Regions from separate parts of the Homo sapiens genome. Here regions 1, 3 and 4 are each linked to region 2. Evidence: fine-mapped expression QTL. A gene starts in region 2. Each other region holds a variant in brackets. All regions are shown on one strand. Distances are between the middles of the regions.

Region 1 (5,152 bases), 290 kb after region 2:
TCCAAACCATATCAATCATTCTCCAAGACAACTTGAAAGGAGTAGAAGCAGGAAGATGAAGTGAGAAGTGGAACTTGAAATAAGACACAATGAGAATGGAAAGGAAGAGATGAAAGGAGGAGCATCTCAGAGGTAGAATCAGAAGTATTTACCAAGGAATTGATAAAAAGTCAAAGATTAGCAAAGATATATGCTCATGCAATAACACATATATGAAGCACAGAAGCAAAAGCTGGACTCAGAACAAAAATAGCAAGTTGAGCCTTAAACACACTGAGTTTGCCTTGGGAGTAGAATGTCCAGGCAGAGAAGTCCATCAGGCAATTGAAAATGTGAATCTGCAACTTGTAAAAAATGTATTATTCAGCCTGGGCTGTCATACAATAGACCACAGACTGGTTGGCTTAAACAACAAAAATGTATTTCTAACCATTCTGAAGGCTAGAAGTCCAAGATCAGGATGTCAGCATGGTTGGGCTCTATTGAGGGCTCTCTTCCTGGCCTATAGATGGCCACCTTCTTGCTGTGTCCTCACATGGCTAAAAGAATAAGAGTCAGTTCTCCAGTATCTCTTCTTAGAAGGGCACTAATCCCAGCATGAATGCCCACCCTCATGACCTTGTCTAAACTGAATTACCTCTAAATGGCCCCATCATTAAACATTGTCACAGTGGGGCTTAGAGCTTCAACATATGAATTTCCGGGGAACACAATTCAGTCCATAGCAGGGGTCAAGGCTGGGAATATGCTTTTGAGAGTCCAAAAGCAATTATTCAGTAGTCCAAAAGCAATTATTCAACTACATATATAAAGTGAAAGAGAAAAGCAGTGAGGTAAGGGACCCAGAAGCAAAGACCACCATGAAAGTCAGAGTAAGAGAAAGTTTCAAGGAGAAATTGGATGCTCAACAGAGTCCACTGCTACTCAGTACACCAGAAGGGTCTTGGAAGCTGAGTAACTTGAGTGATTTGGAGGTCTAGAGTGTGCTTAGGAGCACAGGTGTTGAATGGAATGGAGAGTACACTTATTCTATTCACATGTTGTAAGTCAGAGGACTGTGATGTCTGAAGATAGAGAAACATTTGATGTTTCAGTCCTTAAGGATGACAACTAAAAAAGGAAAATGTGCAAACAAAGTAGTCAGAAAATAATGTTCATGGGGGACATGCACTTGAAGAGAAAGGGTTGGTAGCTTTTGAGAGATGATGGGTCAGAGATCTGAGTGTGGCATGGGAAGCAAGAAGTCATCTCATCCACCTCTCTGTGAATCAGCAAGAGGGAGAGGTGTGACCCCTATTGGCAAGAGTTGCAAAGAAATTGTGACTTCAACTGAAAGCTGAGTTTCAGTTCCTGTGAGGAGGTAGGGGAACTATTAGAGAATAAGACGAGGTGACTGGGAGTTTGTTTTCAATGAGTAAGTAGGTCATAGGTCATGGTGGAGGACCAGGACTTCAGCATGCATGAGATTGGTAAGAGAAAGTGATAGTGCCATGTAGAGCTTAATGCCTGGGATTTTGATCCTGAAAGATTCTGAAAGAGGTGAAAGAAGTGGGTGCTAGAGAGGGAGACTGGGGACATGTTAGTGACAGTGGCAGGTGAAGGCAAAAGATAGGGAGAATTAACCCATCCTCCAAGAACATACTGTTCATTCAGACTTGAGGGTTAGTCTGCCATTAAGAAGCCAGAGCCAACCCTTACAACTCAATAATAAGACTGTCTTAGTCGTTTTGTGCTGCTATAACACAATACCACAAATTGGGGGATTTATAATGAACAGAAATGTATTTGGCCCACAGTTCTGGAGGCCAGGAAGTCCAAGATCAAGGGGCCACATGTGCTGAAGGTCTTCTTGCTGTGTCATAACATGGTGGAAGGCATCACATGGGTGTGAGAGAGTGCAAGAGAGAGCAAGAGGTGAACAGATTCTCTAACAAACCCCCTTCCACAATAATGAACTGACTCCCAAGATAATGACATTAATTCACCCATGAGAGTAGAGCCTCATGACCTAATTACCTCTTAAAGATCCCTCCTCTGAACACTGTTGCATTGGGAGGGGATTAAGTGTCCAACACATGAACTTTGGGGGACACATTCAAACCATAGCAAAGGCAATATTACTCAATTTTTTTAAGTAAGCAGAAGATTTGAATAGACATTTTACCAAAGAGACGTAAGAATAGCTAGCTAATGAGCACATGAAATGAAACATATGCCCACATGAAGATTTGTACATGAATGATCACAGTAGTTTTCTTCATAATAGCCAAAAACCAGAAGCAATCTTAATGTCCATCAACGGGTGAATGGATAAAAAAAAAATGTGGTGTGTCCATACAATGGACTAAACCATTCATCAACATAAAGGAATTACTGATGCCTACTACAGCATGATAAACCTCAGAAACATTATGTTAAGTGAAAAAAAGGCAGATAAAAAAATTACATGTTGAATGGTTCCATTTATATGAAATTTCTAGAAAGAGGCAGAACTACAGAGTCAGAAAACAAATCAGTGGTTGCCTGGGGCCAAGAGAAGGAGTGAAGATAAACCACAAATGGACATGAGGGAATTTTCTGGAATGTTGAGATGATCTAAAACTGGACTGTGATGATATGATAGCTGCACGTCTATATAAATTTACTAAACATCATTTAATCACTTTAATTTACTAAACATCACCAATCACTTAAAATTGGTGAGTTTTATGATCTATAAATTATACCTCAACAAAGCTGATTTATAAAAAAAGAGCCTGATGAAATTTTGGATGTTTAGGGCAAGTGTTGGGATTCTAAGCTTCTTGACAGCCACATACATGCAACAATACCCCCACCTCCCCAACAAACACACACAGACAGCACAGAGGCCAAGGCTTCC[A/C]CCATAGCCACAGTCACTCAGATACTTGACTGGAAATGTACATAGATTTCTGCAGATAGGATGGTGCTATTTCTTTCTCACTCTCATCGAAAGACACTATTTTGTGCTACATAAAGGCTGAACCTGAATAATCTGTACATAATGCTGCTTTGGGAAATGGTTACTGATTGCATGGATAAATTTGCACAGTGTTTTACTTCCAGGACAGCGCAATCTTGAATGTTGACATGGAACATTTCCAAAAGCATGCAATGAGCTATGTGTATGTTGAAACCTGCGACCAAAAACTTGCCTGCTTGTAGATTGGGTTTTCTTTCTAGAAAATGCCCAAATGGAGTTTGGCTAAAATCTGAATACTCTTTAAGTCCATTCAAACAAAATCGGAGTGTCACTACACTGGAAATCACTCACACCCTCCTCTGAACCCTTTTGCAATGGGTGTTGTAATTGTATTATACGTTGTTTCACACTTAATACAAGTTCTTCCATTAAACTGTGTATTGACTTCCTTGTTCTCAGCCCTTATCTGCCTCATCTTTCTGAAGTGTTTAACATTATTGTAACCCTCATTTTTCTTGAAATTTCCTCTTCCTTTGGTTTCTGGGACACTGAAACTTCCAGTTTTCCTCCTGCTTCTAGGTTGTTTTCTTTATCCTCAATGGCTTCTCTTCCTTCTGTCTTCCTTCTCTCAGATGTAGCTGTCTCCCAGGATTTTTGTCTTTAGGGGTCATCCTCCACCAACAGTTGGAACCATTCCCATCAATAACCACCTTTGATTCTCTCTACCTGGATGTCATCATCAGTGTCACAAATTTACCATGTTCAGAATCAAACTCTTTCCTGCCAAACCCTCAATTTCTCACCTCCTGGCTTTGATTAATGGCATCACCATTGTGTAATTTACCCACTCCTCATTCTTTTCAGTGTTCGGTTTTTCAGGTTTTGACAAATGCATGCAGTTGTGTAACCACCACCCCAACAATCAGGACATAGAACAGTTCTATCATCTCAGAAAATTTCCTTATGCTCCTTTGTAGTCAACCTCTACCCTATCCCCAGGACCTGGAAATCAGAAAACCAGATTTATTTTCTGTCTCTAGAGTTTTACTTTTTCTAAAATGTCATATAAATGGAATCATGCAGTCAGTAGTCTTATGAGTCTGTCTCCTTTTACTTCGCATATTACATTTGAGAGCCATCCATGTTGTCGTATCAGTAGTAGTAACGTATCAGTAATTCATTCCTTTCTTATTGTGGCAAAAAAATACATAAAATTTACCATCTGAACGATTTTTATTTTATTTTAAGTTCCAGGGTACATGTGCAAGATGTGCAGATTTGTTACGTAGGTAAACGTGTGCCATGGTGGTTTGCTGCACCTATCAACCCATCACCTGGGTATTAAGCTCGGCATGCATTAGCTGCTTTTCCTGATGCTCCTCCCCTCCCTCGATAGGCCCCAGTGTGTGTTGTTCCCTTCCCTGTGTTCATGTGCTCTCATTGTTCAGCTCCCACTTAGTGAGAACTTGCGGTATTTGGTTTTCTGTTCCTGCGTTAGTTTGCTAAGGATAACAGCTTCCAGCTTCATCCATGTCCCTGCAAAAGACATGATCTTGTTCCTTTTTATGGCTGCATACAACCATTTTTAAATACACAGTACAGTATTGTTAACTATGTGAACATTGTTGTGCAATAGATTCCTAGAACTTTTTCATCTTAGCAAAACTGAAACTCTATATCCATTAAACAATTCTCTCTCTCCCCCAGGCCCTGGCAACCACAATTCTACTTTGTCTAAGAGTTTGACTACTTCAGATACCTCATATAAGTGGAATCATGCAGTATTTGTCTTTTTAGGACCGACTTATTTCATTTAGCAAAATATTCTCAAGCTTCATCCATGTTCTAGTATATGACAAGATTTCCTTCTTTTTAAAGGCAGAATAATATTCCATTGTACATATATGCCACATTTTCTTTATCCATTCATCTGTCAATGGACATTTAGGTTTCTTATACCTCTTGGCTATTATGAATAGTGCCGCAGTGGCCATGGATGTAAAAATTCTCTTTGAGATCCTTTTTTTCAATTCTTTTGTATATACACACAGAGACAGGATTGCTGGATCATATGGTAATTTTATTTTCAAATTTTTGGGGACCTCTCTACTGTTTTCCACAGCAGAGTAGTTCATCTCTTTTTATTTTTGAGTAGTATTCCATCGTACAGATGTACCACATTTTATTTATCCATTCACCAGTTAAAGAACA
Region 2 (5,152 bases):
AGTCCTCTTGGCCACTTCCTGAAAACAAATCAATTATTTGTGATAACTCTCAAATGTCCTAATAATCCCATGGAAAATGTAAATGTAATGAGGACCAAGAATTATAAGGTAAGAAGTGCTAATGTCAGATTTTTACCCACTACATAAGCCCACTCTTGTACTAGGGCAGTGACTTTCTTCTTTGGGTGAGACCTTGAAATCTGGGATTATAATTTTGAATTATAATTATAAAATGGTATTTGGCTGTAAATTATCTCCTTTTTTTTTCTGTTCCTCACAGTTGATATTATGGATTCCCATAAGGATTCATGTCTTCTATTCACTTTAATGAACAGTTGTTGGGCAACAATTCTAGAAGAGTTCCAATTCTCATCAGGAGAATGGACAAGGTGGAGAAGCAGAGAAAATGCAATGAGTAGAATGTCTAAGTCATCACTTTGGAATTGACTGAACATAAATAAAAATGAGAAAGATACGTAAAAAAGAAGGGAATGGGTAAGCAGGGTGATGTCTGGGAGAGGAGGGGCTCCATAGCCATGAGAGTCAACTCTGTAACACCCTATAGGGTTACAACACTGCCCTTCATATACTGAGGTAGCAGCAGGGAAACTTTTTAATTATTAGAAATATTGAACTTTGCCTCCCACCCCCAAACATTTTTCTCATTCAGTTCCTGTTCTTTTTTATTTCTGTAATTTTTACTGTTTCAAAAATGATCTTTTTTCTTTCGGAAGAAGCAATTCTTCAAATCCAGTTCACATAAGGGGATTTGATATGTTCAACAAGCTCCAAATACACTGTATCCAGCAATACCTACTACATGCCTACTTTGAGCTCTGAGCAACCTGCACCTCAAGCCTAGTTCTCATTGTTTTGCTTTTGGCAAATTTTCACTAAGTGCCCTTCCTCCCCAAACACACGTATATGTCTACCAGACCCTAAAGCCCTTTATGAACATGCAAACTCCTCCCTTCTGAAAACCTTTGCGTGAGTGGTCAGCAGGCTAATTCATCCATTGCAATGTGGCTTTGTGTTAGGGTTCTGTTTCCGTGCTGCCTGCAAGATAATCACAGATGTGACTGCATCTTAGAAGTTCCTGAATCTTTCAAGACAGTCTGGTTCACAAGAAAATTAAAAGGTGGAGGTCGGGCGCGGTGGCTCACGCCTGCAATCCCAGCACTTTGGGAGGCCGAGGCGGGCGGATCACCTGAGGTTGGGAGTTCGAAACCAGCCTGACCAACATGGGGAAACCCCGTCTCTGCTAAAAATACAAAATTAGCCAGGCGTGGTGGTGCATGCCTGTAATCCCAGCTACTCGGGAGGCTGAGGCAGGAGAATCGCTTGAACCCGGGAGGCAGAGGTTGCGATGAGCCGAGATCGTGCCATTGCACTCCAGCCTGGGCAACAAGAGCGAAACTCTGCCACACACACACAAACACACACACACACACACACACGGTGTAGTTTAGGAAGTAAAAAAAAAAAAAAAAAAAAAATCAGATCTCCCCTCACACCTCAGATCTGAAGGCACAAACTCTAGGGCCAGGGCGTTCGCCTACCCAACTCCACATGCACTTGCAGGTCACCTAGCACTCAGGTACCTAGCACTCAGGTACATTGTGGCTCCTTACCTCTCACGACAGCAGCAACAACGTTGATTGGAAGTTTATCACTGTGTGTTACGGGCCATGGGCCATGTGTGTTAGAATTTTATGTGAAATTAACATTTAATTCTCACGGACACCCCTGAAACAGATGCCACAGCCCCCATTTTGCCAACGAGGCAGCTGAGGTTCCCAGAGGCTCAATACCAGCACCATGAGCCGCAGCACGCAAGGCAAACACAGCCGGAGGTGAGCACATACCTGCTTCGCACCCCATGCGCCTAACCACAAGGTTCCCTCCCTCCAGGAAGGCCGTTGTCTTCCCTGGGACGACTTGCCAGCTCTGAGGCATGACAGTACGGGCCCCCAGAAGGGTGACCAGGAGGCCCTCCTCGTCCCAGCTGCCGGCGTCGCCGCCCACTGCAGGGCCCGGGCTGTGACTCGTGGGGACGGTTCCCTGCGCCCCGGCGGGGGAGGTGGGCGGGGAGGGGCGGCGGGGCGCCGGGGCGGGGCTCGGGACGGCCGGGCTGGGAGCTGGAGCCCACAGCGGGAAGCGGCCGCCGCCCGGGCCTCGCAGGGCTAGGCGAGGCGAGGGGGGGCGGGGCCGGGCGCTACGGGAAGGGGAGGCCGCGCGGACCGGGAGCCGCACCGCGCCAGCCGGGCTGCAGCGGCCGCGCACCAAGGCTGCGATGGGGCTGGAGACGGAGAAGGCGGACGTACAGCTCTTCATGGACGACGACTCCTACAGCCACCACAGCGGCCTCGAGTACGCCGACCCCGAGAAGTTCGCGGACTCGGACCAGGACCGGGATCCCCACCGGCTCAACTCGCATCTCAAGGTGAAGCCCGGGGCGGGCGGGCCCAAGTCCCCGCTGAGGCCGGGAGGTGCGGGCGCCCCTCAGCCCCGCCCTAACCCGTCCCACCATTGCTACCGGGTCGGCCCCGCAGGGTCTGAGACCCGCACCCTTCCCCGGTCCCACCCGTCACCAGGCCGCCCGCGTAGCCAGGAATTCTTAGCCAGGTTCCTGTGCGCCCACCGTGACCCTAAGAGAAGAGGCGGACGCCCTGGCACGTCCTTCCCTCCTGCTTCCCCCGCCCAAAGCGCTCCCGGTTCCCGGGGCGTCAGGTTGGCTGACAGTTCGGGGTCCCTGCGTCCTGTCTCCTCAGCTGGGCTTCGAGGATGTGATCGCAGAGCCGGTGACTACGCACTCCTTTGACAAAGTGTGGATCTGCAGCCATGCCCTCTTTGAAATCAGCAAATACGTAATGTACAAGTTCCTGACGGTGTTCCTGGCCATTCCCCTGGCCTTCATTGCGGGAATTCTCTTTGCCACCCTCAGCTGTCTGCACATCTGGTGAGACGGGGCACACCGGGTGGACCGGCTTTCTGAAACATGGGCATATTCTCCGCCACCTGCCCCCTACTCTCCTCTTATCCCAGGCCGGCGTCAGGAGGAGGAACGCGCATCAGTTCCCAAGCAGTAGGAAGAACTGGAAGGCCTTGAAAGGCAATGCGCTTCCTTTAGAATAACAGTTTGGGCTTGGAGTTTCAACAGGAGAAAGAATGTCGGTCTTTCCTGGGGTGTGATTTTCCTTGCATACATAAGGCTGGGCTGAGTGTGGAGGCGGGTACCTGGAAGCCACACTTCTTACCACAGGCTGCTCTCGGGGCCCTGTTGTGACTCGTACCTGCGGTTCTGGGCAGGACTCTTCTTTCTTTCATTGCCTTTTATTCAGTCACTGCCTGTGCTTGGGGTAAAACAAAAGTGATCTCTGAGCAGAATGCCGCTGACAGTAGAATTGGATGAGGATGTCAGACCTGGTTAAGCAGTAGTGTGGAGGGGCTGCTTCAACTTTGCCCCTGGCAGATGGCAAGGATGGGACCCAGAGGAAAGGGAGGTGTGTGCAGTTAAGGCGAGGGTCCCCCCCAGTACAAACGAATGAAAACTCCAGCTGCGGGATAATGAATGAGAAGGCCTCCAAATTACTTTTTCACTGATGAAACACAAATGGAAGTGGCATATAATTAAAGGGGAAAGAAATATGGAAGCCCACTGTATATTGATAGGATATTTTGAGTAACTCTATTCATACTCAAAATGTGTCCTAAACTGTAGAGAACTTTCTTAAGCATCTTTTAAATTTTTTATGGAAAATGTCATATTTTACCAATAAATGTTGTTGTGTTAGAAAATATCCACTTTAATCTGAGAGGAAGAATATTCAGATCATCCCCAGTATCACAACAGTTGTCACGCTAGTGCTTCAGGTTAGTCCTGGTGAAAGGTATAACCCAAGGTACCTCCGTGTCTTTCTTACACCTTTTATGATATTGCCACACCCTGATAAATACTCGGTGTTCATTGTTAGAAGTTACCAATTTATCCTTTATTTCTCTATACCACCTGAATCTTAATTTATTTAGTCAGTTAGCTAGCTAGTTAGTTCAACAAACTTTAAATTGATTGAGTGCTTAGTTTGTGCTGGGCACTGGGCCAGGATGAATGAGAGATAGGGTCTGCCTTCAGCTTACTCACAGCCTTATCAGGGCAGCTGGCTAGGTACAGAGATGGACGCTGAGAAAACACAGTCAACTGACAAAGAGGGAGGAACAGACAAGGCTTTGAAGAGTGAAAGGAGTCGAAAAAGACTTTGAAAGGATAAATGAAAATTCACCAAATACGTAAAGGATACACAAAGAACACCAATTTAATTTTATCACTAAAGGTTGTAAACAATTAAACTATGTTGAAGGTGCCAAGATTGCCAGGGAAATGAAAATGTTGCCTTAGTACATGATCAGCTTCATGAAGGTCAAATGGATAGTTATATTCTGACATTTGCACTTGAATTTTTTTTAAGATCCCTGAGTTGGCACATAAGATTTGGGATTCCCAATTAACTAAAACTAATCATCTAACCTCTATGTCAGTTTTCTCACTTTCAAAACTGTGAAAAACTGAGTGACCGCATAGCATATTGTGAAATGCTGACTATGAAGCTATTTGGAAATGTGAAGTACCATATTTATAGTCAACAAAGCTAGGCTTCCCAAAGCTTTTGTGAAAGAATTTGAAAAAAAAAAGTTTCTCATTTACTAAGTGGTGGAAAGATATAAGTAAAACTACAATTAACCAAGCAATGCCTCTCTCCAGCTGGCTCTTCTGAGAATGGGAGGTGTTTTTGTATAGTGCTTCAATTGGTGAATCATCAATGCACCTTTTTTTAGCCACATAAAATGTATTATTTAATATTATTTAACTTCAGCTTGTTTTTTTAACTATATTTATGTGGGGCATTAATATTTAACTGTAAAACATTTGTCACCAGGCAGCTGTGATTGCAAGTAGAGGAGTAATTTCAAACAAGAATGCTTAAAAGTTAGCTATGCCTTGATAAAATAGGTTTATCATTAATAGATTGCATTCCCATGACATGATAAGACCAGATCAAGGACAGACCTTACAGAATTGCAAACCCATTTGGGCAAGCTTTTTTTGTTTTGTTTTCTTTTTATATATATTTTTTAAAGCAGGGGCTTGTGTATT
Region 3 (5,152 bases), 170 kb before region 2:
ATCCACCACCCATCACCTTAAGTTTATCTTCTCAACCTGCATGATTTTGAGTGAAAGGGGAGCCAGAAGTGAGATGTATGATCATCCTACTAATAGTTCACATCTGTTCTGAGATTCTGATTGCTGTGAAAATTCTTGTGATAGAAAAATAATTTGTTAAATTCCCTCTTAAAACCTGAAGCAAAAATTATCAGGCTTCTATTTTTATAATACAAACAATTTTCTTCCAGAAACATTCTGATCTGTGTACTCATTATTTTCTAAAGTACATATTTACTTCACATCAGGCATACAATGGTGGACAAAACAGCTGCCTTTCTTCCCCGTATGGAGCTTACAGTATAGTGAATATTTCATGGGACTAGTATCTACAGAAGGTGTTTTGGGAAGCACAGCTTTGGAGAGAGTAATTTGCCAACATTGCACAGAATAAAGGCACCATGAGGGCCCAAGGAAGGAAAAGATTTGCAGCTGTCTTGGTAAGAACTGATGATAAGTGGAATCACACAAGAGATGGTTTAGATATAAAATCAGCAGGATTTGGTAGCTGCTTGACTTTGGGAATCAAAGATGAATTTCACTAGAAAGATAGTTGCGCTGATACAAAGAAAATACAAGAAGCTTGGGAAACACAATTGAGTTTAGGCTGCATATTTGTTTTATGTGCTGTATAGCAAATTACCACAAACCTAGCAATATAAAACAATATGCCTTTACTCTGTCACAGTTTCTGTGGGTCAGCAGTCTGGGTATGGCTTAGCTAAGCTCTCTGCTCAGAAGCTCACAAGCTGTAATCAAGGTTGCATTCTACATTCTCATCTGGAAGCTGCATTCTCATATGGAGGCTTGACTGGGGAAGATCCACTTTTCCAAGTTTTTCAGGTTTTTTGAGAATTTGTGTATTTGTGGTTGTATGACTGAGGGTCTTAGCCTTTTATTGGTTGCGGCTAAGGCAAACTTTAAGCCCTAAAGGGAGGTCCTTGCTGCCTGGGCCTCCCTATAGGCAGTTCATAACATGGCCATTTGCTTTTTCAAGGCCAATGGGAGAATCTCTAGTTGCAGTGTGCTAAGAGAGTCTTGTATACTTAAGGCAGTGACAATCCACCATCTTTGGCATACAATATACACTCATCAAAAGAGTGAAATCCTGCCTTTGCATATTGTATTGGTCAGAAGCAAGTCACGGGCTCTGCCTACATTCAAGAAGAGAGAATTAAACAAGAACGAGGATGCATTGGGGGTCACCTTAGTGTATGTCGGCTCTAAGTTTGGATGTGTTGTGTTTGAGGTGTTAGAAGAGCCTTTGGTGAACAAGTCATCCACGGTTATAAACTGGACAATGTACATCTAGAATGTTTTTTTCCTTTGTGAACTTCTGATAGCAATTAGGGTTAAATGGCTATTTCCTTATAATATTTCTTTATCCAGTTTGTGCTGATTACATTTATAAAATAAAGAGAAGTAAACCTTATATATGAAAACAAAAATGAAATAATATTTGTCAGGTGGTGATAAAAATAAAGCTTAGAAAGATACGTACAACGGCAACTCTCAGATAGGGCTAGAAAGTTTGGAGATGGATATTTATTCCTTAAAGCCAAAGATAAAATAATTTAATTTTCTTCTCCAAAAAACTTCATAGCACAGAAATTGGCAGCCTCTCAGCCAAATATCTCTTGGAAGAAGAAATAATACCTCCTGCTACACATTAACTTCTGAGCCAATTTCAATCTAATACACAGAAGTTAATTCTAGTCAGCTCTCAAGAAAATCTTGACCTACGAATATCTATTTGAAAAATTGAAAAGAGATGTAAAAGCAGAGCCCTACAGACAATATTCTAACAATTGGTGCTGCATTACCAGGTTTGTTTTCTTCTTATCTTATCCCTAAATGGCAAAATAAAAGGCCTAGATCAACTATATCTTGGATTTATGTGACCAAGTCTATCAACAAACCAATAACATCATCATGCATAAAGTGAGCCTTACTCTGTATTTCACTTCTGGTGGTTTTAGTCAACAGCCACTCCATTTTCTAAAGGCAGAAGATTGAACAAAAGATCAGTATATTCCACAAGAACAAATAAATCCAATAACTCTGTAAAGAAGAATATCCCTCTGACCAAATTTTGACTTAGTTACATGATATAATCATAGGTTTTTTAAAAAGCTACTTCATAGCTATGTTTTAAAAATCTAGATATAAACTCTCAAAAGGCAAACTGTAGCTTGGAGAGATATTTGAGACATACTATACAACAAAAGATTACCTTTTATAACTAGAGAACTTTTAAAATCAATAAGATTAACACAATAAAATACATGAAAGACATGAAGAAATGCAGTGGCTAATATGTTTACGAAGAAGGCTTGATCTTATTTGAAATTAAATACAAGTAAATTAAAGCAATGAACTATTTTTAATATGTCTAATAAGCAAATTAATATACCCAGATAAAGTAGGAAAATGAGTACTTTTAAGTACTGGAGATGGCATACATTGGCTTCTGGAAGACAACAAATATACATCAAAAGTTCTAAAATGTAATGATTCTTTGCACCAGCAATTCCACTTCCAGGAATTAATCCTAAAGGGAAGAATGTGATTTACCTTCAAAGGATTTTTAAAATCGCAATTTTCTTATAATAGGAAAAAATTAGAATGAAAGAATATTCAATATTAGGG[G/A]ATTTGTAAAACATGTTATGGTATAATCATAGCCTGCCATCATAACTTTTAGCCTGTTTTCCCACTCCATGCCCCATTCTCTCCTTTCTGAGAACCACTGCCAGCCTCACATCTCACAAATAGTGTTGATACCATATAACCCTTTGCACCTATCCATTCCCCTGTGTTCATAGCTCATTAGGTGTGGATATACTAAACCGGCCTAATCAGATATGCTCCCTTGGAAGTTCAGAATTGGAATAAAGAGGCTCTGGTTAATTCAGCACTTTAATCGAATGGCAGAGCGGTGAACTCAGGTGCTGTAGTGGCCATTTACACAGAGAAGGGGAGAAAACAGCCTCCAAAGAAAAACAAAGCAAAGGAGCCAGAAAATTAGGGAAAAGAAGCATTATGGTATGGGTGCTAAGGCCAAGGTCATGCCCCAAACCACAGGGTTGTGCCTATCCTTGACAGAAGTGCAAAGAAGGAGCTCATTTTCGGACATCCCACCTTTTATTTCTGAGCCCTTCCTTCCCACATTTTTTTGTTTTCATTTAGATGTTGCATATATTCGTCATTTAGGACTTTCCAAGAATGACTTTCCAATAGCACTCCAATTTCTTTTTTGGAGGTTAATCAGCCTCCAGAACCCACCACCAATTTTTGTGTTGGTGATGGGGGAATCCAGATGCCTCCAGTCATTATGGAAGCTGAAGCTGACAGAGGCCATGACTCCTCATCCCTGCTGAAGGCAGAGGATAGGTCCACACCTAAGCTCAGCCACTGATGCTCTCTGACTGGCCTTTGAGTCATAAATAGCAGCATGCTATCCTATCCACACTGCTGCGCTTTCCACATCTGGATACTCGGGATCACCCTAGGCTCCTGTGCATCCCACACTTATCCCTCAGCGTTCCATTGATTTTCCAACATGAATAGCCTTCTAATATGTCACATATGATTAAGTTAGCTGGAGTCCATTTCTGTGTTTTTAAATATACTTTTATTTTAAATATATTTTTAAATATATTGATGTGTACTTTTCTTTCTCACCTTTCCTTGTATATGATGCCCTCTTACTTCAGCTAGTGGAGGCTTGGCCATTATTGTAAGGAGGCTAAGCATTAAAACAGCAATGTAAGATAAAAAGATGTCCATGTTCAGCTTTTGATTTCCAAAATTAGACTTGTTTTAATCTCCAGTAAGATTCTTAAAAATGAGGCTTTGTTTAAAGAGGTTAAGTTTTTTCTGAATCCCTTAAACTCCAATTTTTATATACAGATCTAGGCCTGATGGACTTTTGTCCTAGAGTTTTACTAGAAAATACTGCGTAGAGACAACAAATGATTTGACACAAGGGATATGCCCAATAGTAAGAAGGAAGAAGAAGAAATTATTCTGTCATGGAAGGGAGGCACAGGGCTCAGAGAGGAAGCAGTTAAACTGATGAGATGCCTGGTTCCCTTCGCTGATCTAGAGCAGCCACACTGCCATCCCTGTGCCGTGGCCAAAGAGACAAAACAAATAATTAAAAATGCCCACAGAAAGCTAAAATGGATTAAATGAGAGGTTGATGCTCTGCTTCTCTGTCAACAGGCCAAAGAGCTGTACAGTAGGAATTACAAAGGAAGCATTTGATGATGTACCCAAGAGGGTGCCCCAGTCCTCCCATAGACGATGCAAGGCATACCAGAGACCCAGAAATGTCTGTGTGGCTCAGTGGGGAAATGTGGAGAGGCCACAAAAACCTAGAGGGGACTCTGATTGGGAAAAGGAAGCTACACAGCCTAGGGACTTTACTCCTTGAGGCAACTGGCAAGAAGTGATACATTAGAAGTTAATGCCAGCGAAATATTCAACAAGGTTAGGTATAACCAGCCACATCTCAGAGGACACCAGTATAGGGCCTCTGGGGACCAAACCAACCCCTCCGAAGCAAAGAACATCAAGAATGTGGAAAGTGCCCTCAACTCCTGCCACATGAGGATGGATGCAACCTCCTCCTGCACATTGGAAAGAAGGATCAGGGAGGGACCAGCCTATGGTAGCAGGAGGCACAGCCAAAATAGGGCTCTAAATTGCTGAAAGTTATTTACTCATAAGAGATGAACTATCTTAACTTGGAAAAGTTGTTTACCCTGACTTCACCTGGAATTGAAATTGTCTGCTAAATAAAATAAAGGAAATTATAAAATATGTTACACATACAGACTATAACAAATACCCTTTTTTTTTTTTTTTTTTTTTTTTTTTTTTTTTTTTCTGAGACAGAGTTTTACTCATCACCCAGGCTGGAGTGCAGTGGCGCAATCTCAGCTCACTGCAACCTCCATCTCCCGAGTTTAAGCGATTCTCCTGCCTCAGCCTCCTGAGTAGCTGGGATTACAGGCACCCACCACCACGCCCAGCCAATTTTTGTATTTTTGGTAGAGATGGTGTTTCATCATGTTGGCCAGGCTGGTCTCAAACTCCTGTCCTCAGGTGA
Region 4 (5,152 bases), 140 kb before region 2:
TCTGTCAAAAAAATAATTTTGTACACATCAATGGATTCTTATGGCCTGTTTTATTCTTCGCATATTTTGGCAGAAGTTGGCTGTTGAGAATACATTTTACTTCATTTTTCAAAGTAATTCTTTTTTTAAAAAAAACTCTTTAACTTAGTTGCATAATTACATACGTGACTAGGATAATAGTCTATGACCATGATTGGTGAAAAGGTAGTGTATTTTAGTATTAACTACAACTTAAAAACATTATGGGTAAGATTAATTAAATGCTGTGAAATTTGCCATAATATTTACCATCAGCTGGAAATAAAGAGAACAGAGTTGTAAGTATTATGCAATCATTTTAATTCAGGCCCATTCCCATAAGTGATACAGACCTGGAATTGTAGTGTGAAGTCACAGGCAGGCTGGCACCCAGCCAATACACATCAGCACACCAGCCTAGGACTGTACCATGCCAGTGCTCCAGACTTTGACTTTCATCCCAACTCACTTCCAGGGACCTTTTCAAAGATATTCAGTAGACAGCCTGTATTTTCTGCATACGCTATACCCGGCCCTCAAGTTACAGACAGCCCAAACTAAATGGGATCTTGGAGGTTAGTTGACATTTTACCAATGAGACAACTAAGGTAAGATAACTGTTAAGATTAAGGGGAATGCTGAATTTTCATTTTTCTAAAACAAACAAACAAAAAAAGTTTCTTCTTCCAGCTAACATCTCAATCACGTACCCAAAATGACTTTTAAAAATTTCACATTCTTTCTACTAAGATGCCAGCGGCAGCAGCCTACTCCATACGTCAGGCAGTGTTTGTATATATTTCAGCGTATCCAAGCAAGGCCTTTTTAACTTTCCATCCTACAGACGAAGCTGTACTTTCCTGAATGGCAGCCAGGAAAAAACTTGGGGATTTGGCAGGAAGACTGTGGGAAGCCTGGTGTTCCACCAGGCTGAGATCTGGAGCGGAGCTTTCTACAAAGACAGAGGAGCGAAACACCTCCCTTTGTTTAGCTCTTCATAGGAGCACAAATGGAGCCCCCAGATTGTAATCAGGCCCTATTGTATAAACTTGGGGTTTTCAGGCCATACAGCATTTTTGGCAGCAAATCCCTTATTATTTTTCAGCTGGAAAACCAATTAGCATTCTTTTTATATCTGGGTGTTAATACTTGGGCCTTAGAGCAATTTTTTGGCCACTGGCCCACATGGCTGTAGTCTCTTGGGCAATGCCTGACAAATTGAGATAAAACTGTTACTTCATGTTTTCCTACAAAGACAAAACAAAAACTGTTTCCTGCTCTTATTAATTGGATGAAGTCAATTTCCACATTTAACAAATAAGAAGGTAAGCATAATCAGGGTGTCAACCCACGGCTCTTATCTCTCCCCAGGCTGGTTCCTCTGCAGGAATGTGAGGGAGCAAGACTTGTCAGGTTCTGACTAAGCTTTCCTTTTATTGGAAAAATAAAAAGTCCTCCTGGGCAACAGAGACCTCTGTCAGGTGAACAGGCTGCGACCACCACAAGGTCACCCTTTGGTCTCAGTGGCATTTTTGCTTCACAAGTCTGAGCGATGTGATTTACCTGAGGGAAAGAATTGTTAGGAGATTCCAGCCATGACAAGTGGATTAGTCATAACAGTCAAGAGGACACTGCCCAGTTTGAGAGGAATAAACAGAGCCAAACATTTCCCTATCTCGAAAGCATAGCAAAGTCAAGTTCACGCTCCGGGAATGTAGTTTACGATTAGAGAAAGCCATATCTGGGCTGCTGTCTCAGAATATCTAAGCGAGTAGAGAAGAGGAGGAAAGGAGTTTGGAATGGCTGTGGGAGGTGCCCATCCTGTTAAGTGTTCCCCTATGGTAAACAACCCCTGCCATGGCAACACAACTTCATGCTGCAAATCAGAGGAGCGCAGCCCTCCAGCGAGCAGACCACAACTTGGGAAAATCTCCAGGATGATGCAAAATATTTCAAAGGGAAGT[G/A]GTAAAACAAACAGAACGGAAACACAGCCATACAACTGCAGTTTGAAGACAAAAATTTGTTAGGTACAAAAAATAGTTTGGGTGCAATTACAGGAGCATTTTTGTGTTGCTGGTACTGATTGTACATCTCTTTGATAGAAATGGCCTGAGGGGTTGCTGCTCCCCTTCAAGACTTTCTTTGTAAGTAGTGGGCGGTGGCATCATTTAAAAAAAATCCACTTGAAAGACTTCTTTAAAGAATTTGTACAGAACATTTTCTTTGCAAGAAAATCTATTCTGAAGCAATATTATTTAACAACGGGGCTGTGTTTTGAGTCATATGAAAATTTATTATCCAATTTTTTCTTATTGTTATATTTGCTATCAAGAGCAGAAAATGATCATCTATAATAATTTAGAGGAGCGACTAAAAATGCCCAATCACGCACAGGAAAAGAAGCACTTGACTTGCATCTCTAGAGCCAGAAATCACCCGATTCTCTATGCAGAGGGTGGCCATACACCGCAGTTTGCCAGGAGAGTCTCAGTTGACTCTAGTTGTCCAGATTTAATTACCAACAGTGCCTCTTTCACTGACAGAAGTGTTCTGGTTTGGATAGTAAATAATTTGGTGACCCTATTGATTCACAGAGCCCAAGAATCTTCTGTCTGCTCCTACTCTCCCCGGGGACATCAGTCTAAGACTCTAAAAATCAGAACGTAAATGCAAAATGAAAAAGAGTCGGGTGGGGAATTGCTGCCACCTGGTAAAGAAGAAACCTCGACAGTTTGGCTTCACCTAAAGGAAGCATGGAAGGACTGTGAACAAAATTAACCCTGTGTGTATTGAGGAGAGGAGAGTACCCCCCTTCATAGAGACCCCCTGCGGCAGCCTTTAGGAATACCTGGGAGCTTCCCACTGGATTAGACACCAAAGTCTAAACAAGTGCTCCTCTGTCAAATCCTGGAAGGCGGACAGTCATTTCAAAAGCAGACATGCATGCTGCCTCTTTTTGTGCCTTGCAGCCCAGAAAGTATTGCTCAGATGTTCCAAATCAGAAGGTGTTCAGCCACTTCATACTGCCACCAGCCATGCTGCTGGGCTGCAGCTATTTGGATCAGAATGGAACTCTTTGATCTGTTTTATATCTAAGTTTAACTATGGCCTGGGTCCAAAAGGTAGACTAATTTTGGCAACTTCCCCTGTACACTTTTATCTAGAGATAAAAGGAACACTTGGAAGCATAAACAGAAGGTGCATTTCTGTAGGCCCAATAGCCAGCACATCAAAACACAAGACCATAGAAGCTGGTGCTGAATATTAGTTCTGATTTTAGAATGCAGCTCTACTCTGCTACCTCACTCACTGGCAGCCAGTAGGACCATTTCCTTCTATTGTAAACATATAAAGATAACATAGCATTACAGAACTCAGAAAGGAAAGACTCATTTCCAGCACAGTGACTTCCATTTTTACATGAATTTTTAAAATTGAAAACCATGATTTTTAAGTTATAAAGTAATTACACTGGCTTTGGGTCCAGGAGTCCAAGGCTCTCATACAAATATGTGGGTGACTGGAGACCTGAGCATCGATACTCTTCCAACCTCCCTGTCTCTCAAGCGGTCTGTGCTTTAATCAGGAATTTATGGCTTGGTAAGCCCAGTTAGGAGAGTGGAACATAAATCCCCAGGGGCAGCCAGCTTGGAGCTCCAGAGAAGAGTTATAGCTTGCCCATGACCTTTGCACTATGTGAATTTGTCAGTGAAGGACCAAATGAGAGAAATGCAAGGCCTGGCAGGGTTTAATGTAGCCCATTTTAACTTATAGTCAGAGCTACTGTCTATTCCAGAATAGGACAATGGACAGTGGAGTTCTAAAAATAGTAAGGTGATTTTTCTATAGGGACATGCAGCTGAATACACAGAGGCAGTTTAGCTGCATGCAAATCAGATAAGCTCTGAGTAGCAGTATTTGGTACCTTATTGCCAAACCAGTCCATTCTATAAGAAGTACAATCACCAAATTGGAAGGAGACATTTCTAGTCTTTCCTTGCTAGGATCTAAAGAGACCAGTGAGTTTCTTGAAGGGCTCTTGGGACACATAGGACCTGACTGACAGAATAATGTGACATGGCTTAAACACACTAACATGACCAACTACCCCCAAATAGTGATTTGCCAAATGGAGATGAACTAACCAGGCCAGTGCTGGGCAGTTAGTGGAAAGGAATACCACAGAGTTTGTGTATAAAAGGGCCCTAATATAGAACAGTGAAGTAACACTGGGACACATTTTTTGTAGGTCATCAAATGGCATCACAGAATTAATTTGCTGAAAAATACATAATATTAACTATAATTCCTTTGAATGAAATTACCTTGTTTTGTTGATGTAAAAATTGAGAAAGTAGTACCATCTATTTGGGTTTTCAGTGGGGATGTTTTCCCAGTTTCTGGGTAAAAGGATATGACTCACGGATGAGAAATATGAAATTCCCATTAAACTGTCCTGGTTGGCCAGGCACAATGGTTCATGCTTATAATCCCAGAACTTTGGGAGGCTGAGGCAGGCAGATTGCTTGTGCCCAGGAGTTTGAGACCAGACTGGGCAACATGACAAAACACTATTTCTACAAAAAACACAAAAAATTAGCCAGGCATGCCTGTAGTCCCAGCTTCTCGGGAAACTGAAGTGGGAGGTCCAGGCTTCAGTGAGCTGTGATCACTCCATACATTCCAGCCTGGGCAACAGAGCGAGACCCTGTCTTGAAAATAAAAATAAAGTGTCTTGGCCATCTCAGAAATCAGAATTCCACATAAAGTTTGGGAATTGCATTAGATCATATCTAAGACCTCTTTCAAATGCAATTTTTGCATAGCAAGGATCTGAACAGTCTTGAAAGGATTTCCTTTTATGTTCATTTCAAAAAACCCTCAGAAAAGAAAAAATTGACAGCACAGCCCAAGGTCAAGAGAATAAGTAAGTACAGAGAAGGCTGAACTCAAGTTAGCAACAGACATGTGATTCCCACAGCCTCCTCAAAGTAGTTCTCTATCATGTGAGGAAGAGCTTGAGCCACCAGACCTGACCTTTCCTGAATATTCCTCTTTAACAACAAAAAATTATTTTAGTTAAACAATAAGAACCACATGACTCTACTCTCACACAGTAAAAGAGTCAATCCAT

Which allele goes with the higher level. Positions count from the first base shown, and alleles are read on the strand shown. Sizes are in standard deviations (SD) of each study's normalised expression. Not every link is listed here.
As copies of C replace A in region 1, the expression in putamen of the gene that starts at base 2,250 in region 2 goes up (small effect, 0.25 SD a copy in GTEx).

What was found. PIP is the estimated chance that this variant, and not a neighbour inherited with it, causes the effect. A credible set is the group of variants that fine-mapping cannot tell apart.
Region 1: its variant is the best candidate, but not a certain one, in a credible set for the expression of CAV2 in putamen (GTEx, PIP 0.56).
Region 3: its variant is the best candidate, but not a certain one, in a credible set for the expression of CAV2 in whole blood (INTERVAL, PIP 0.65).
Region 4: its variant is the best candidate, but not a certain one, in a credible set for the expression of CAV2 in whole blood (INTERVAL, PIP 0.57).

Annotation. Positions count from the first base shown.
Region 1 is chr7:116,785,638-116,790,789 of GRCh38, forward strand. The region is part of intron 19 of MET (MET proto-oncogene, receptor tyrosine kinase); the gene reads left to right. Among named protein-coding and RNA genes, the nearest start is that of CAPZA2, 74 kb to the right of the region's middle. The variant A/C (reference allele first, on the strand shown) is at 2,882.
Region 2 is chr7:116,497,489-116,502,640 of GRCh38, forward strand. CAV2 (caveolin 2) reads left to right here and starts at 2,250. Exons shown (of 3, transcript NM_001233.5): 1 at 2,250-2,443; 2 at 2,772-2,959. The coding sequence starts at 2,294. CAV2-DT (CAV2 divergent transcript) reads right to left here and starts at 2,028. Exons shown (of 3, transcript NR_188012.1): 1 at 1,866-2,028. RefSeq lists enhancers at 1,265-1,766, 1,813-1,952 and silencers at 2,133-2,222, 4,007-4,301.
Region 3 is chr7:116,331,298-116,336,449 of GRCh38, forward strand. All of the region lies in intron 6 of LOC105375463 (a long non-coding RNA gene), which reads left to right. Among named protein-coding and RNA genes, the nearest start is that of TES, 120 kb to the left of the region's middle. The variant G/A (reference allele first, on the strand shown) is at 2,689.
Region 4 is chr7:116,353,425-116,358,576 of GRCh38, forward strand. No RefSeq gene overlaps it. Among named protein-coding and RNA genes, the nearest start is that of CAV2-DT, 140 kb to the right of the region's middle. RefSeq lists an enhancer at 185-3,631. The variant G/A (reference allele first, on the strand shown) is at 1,983.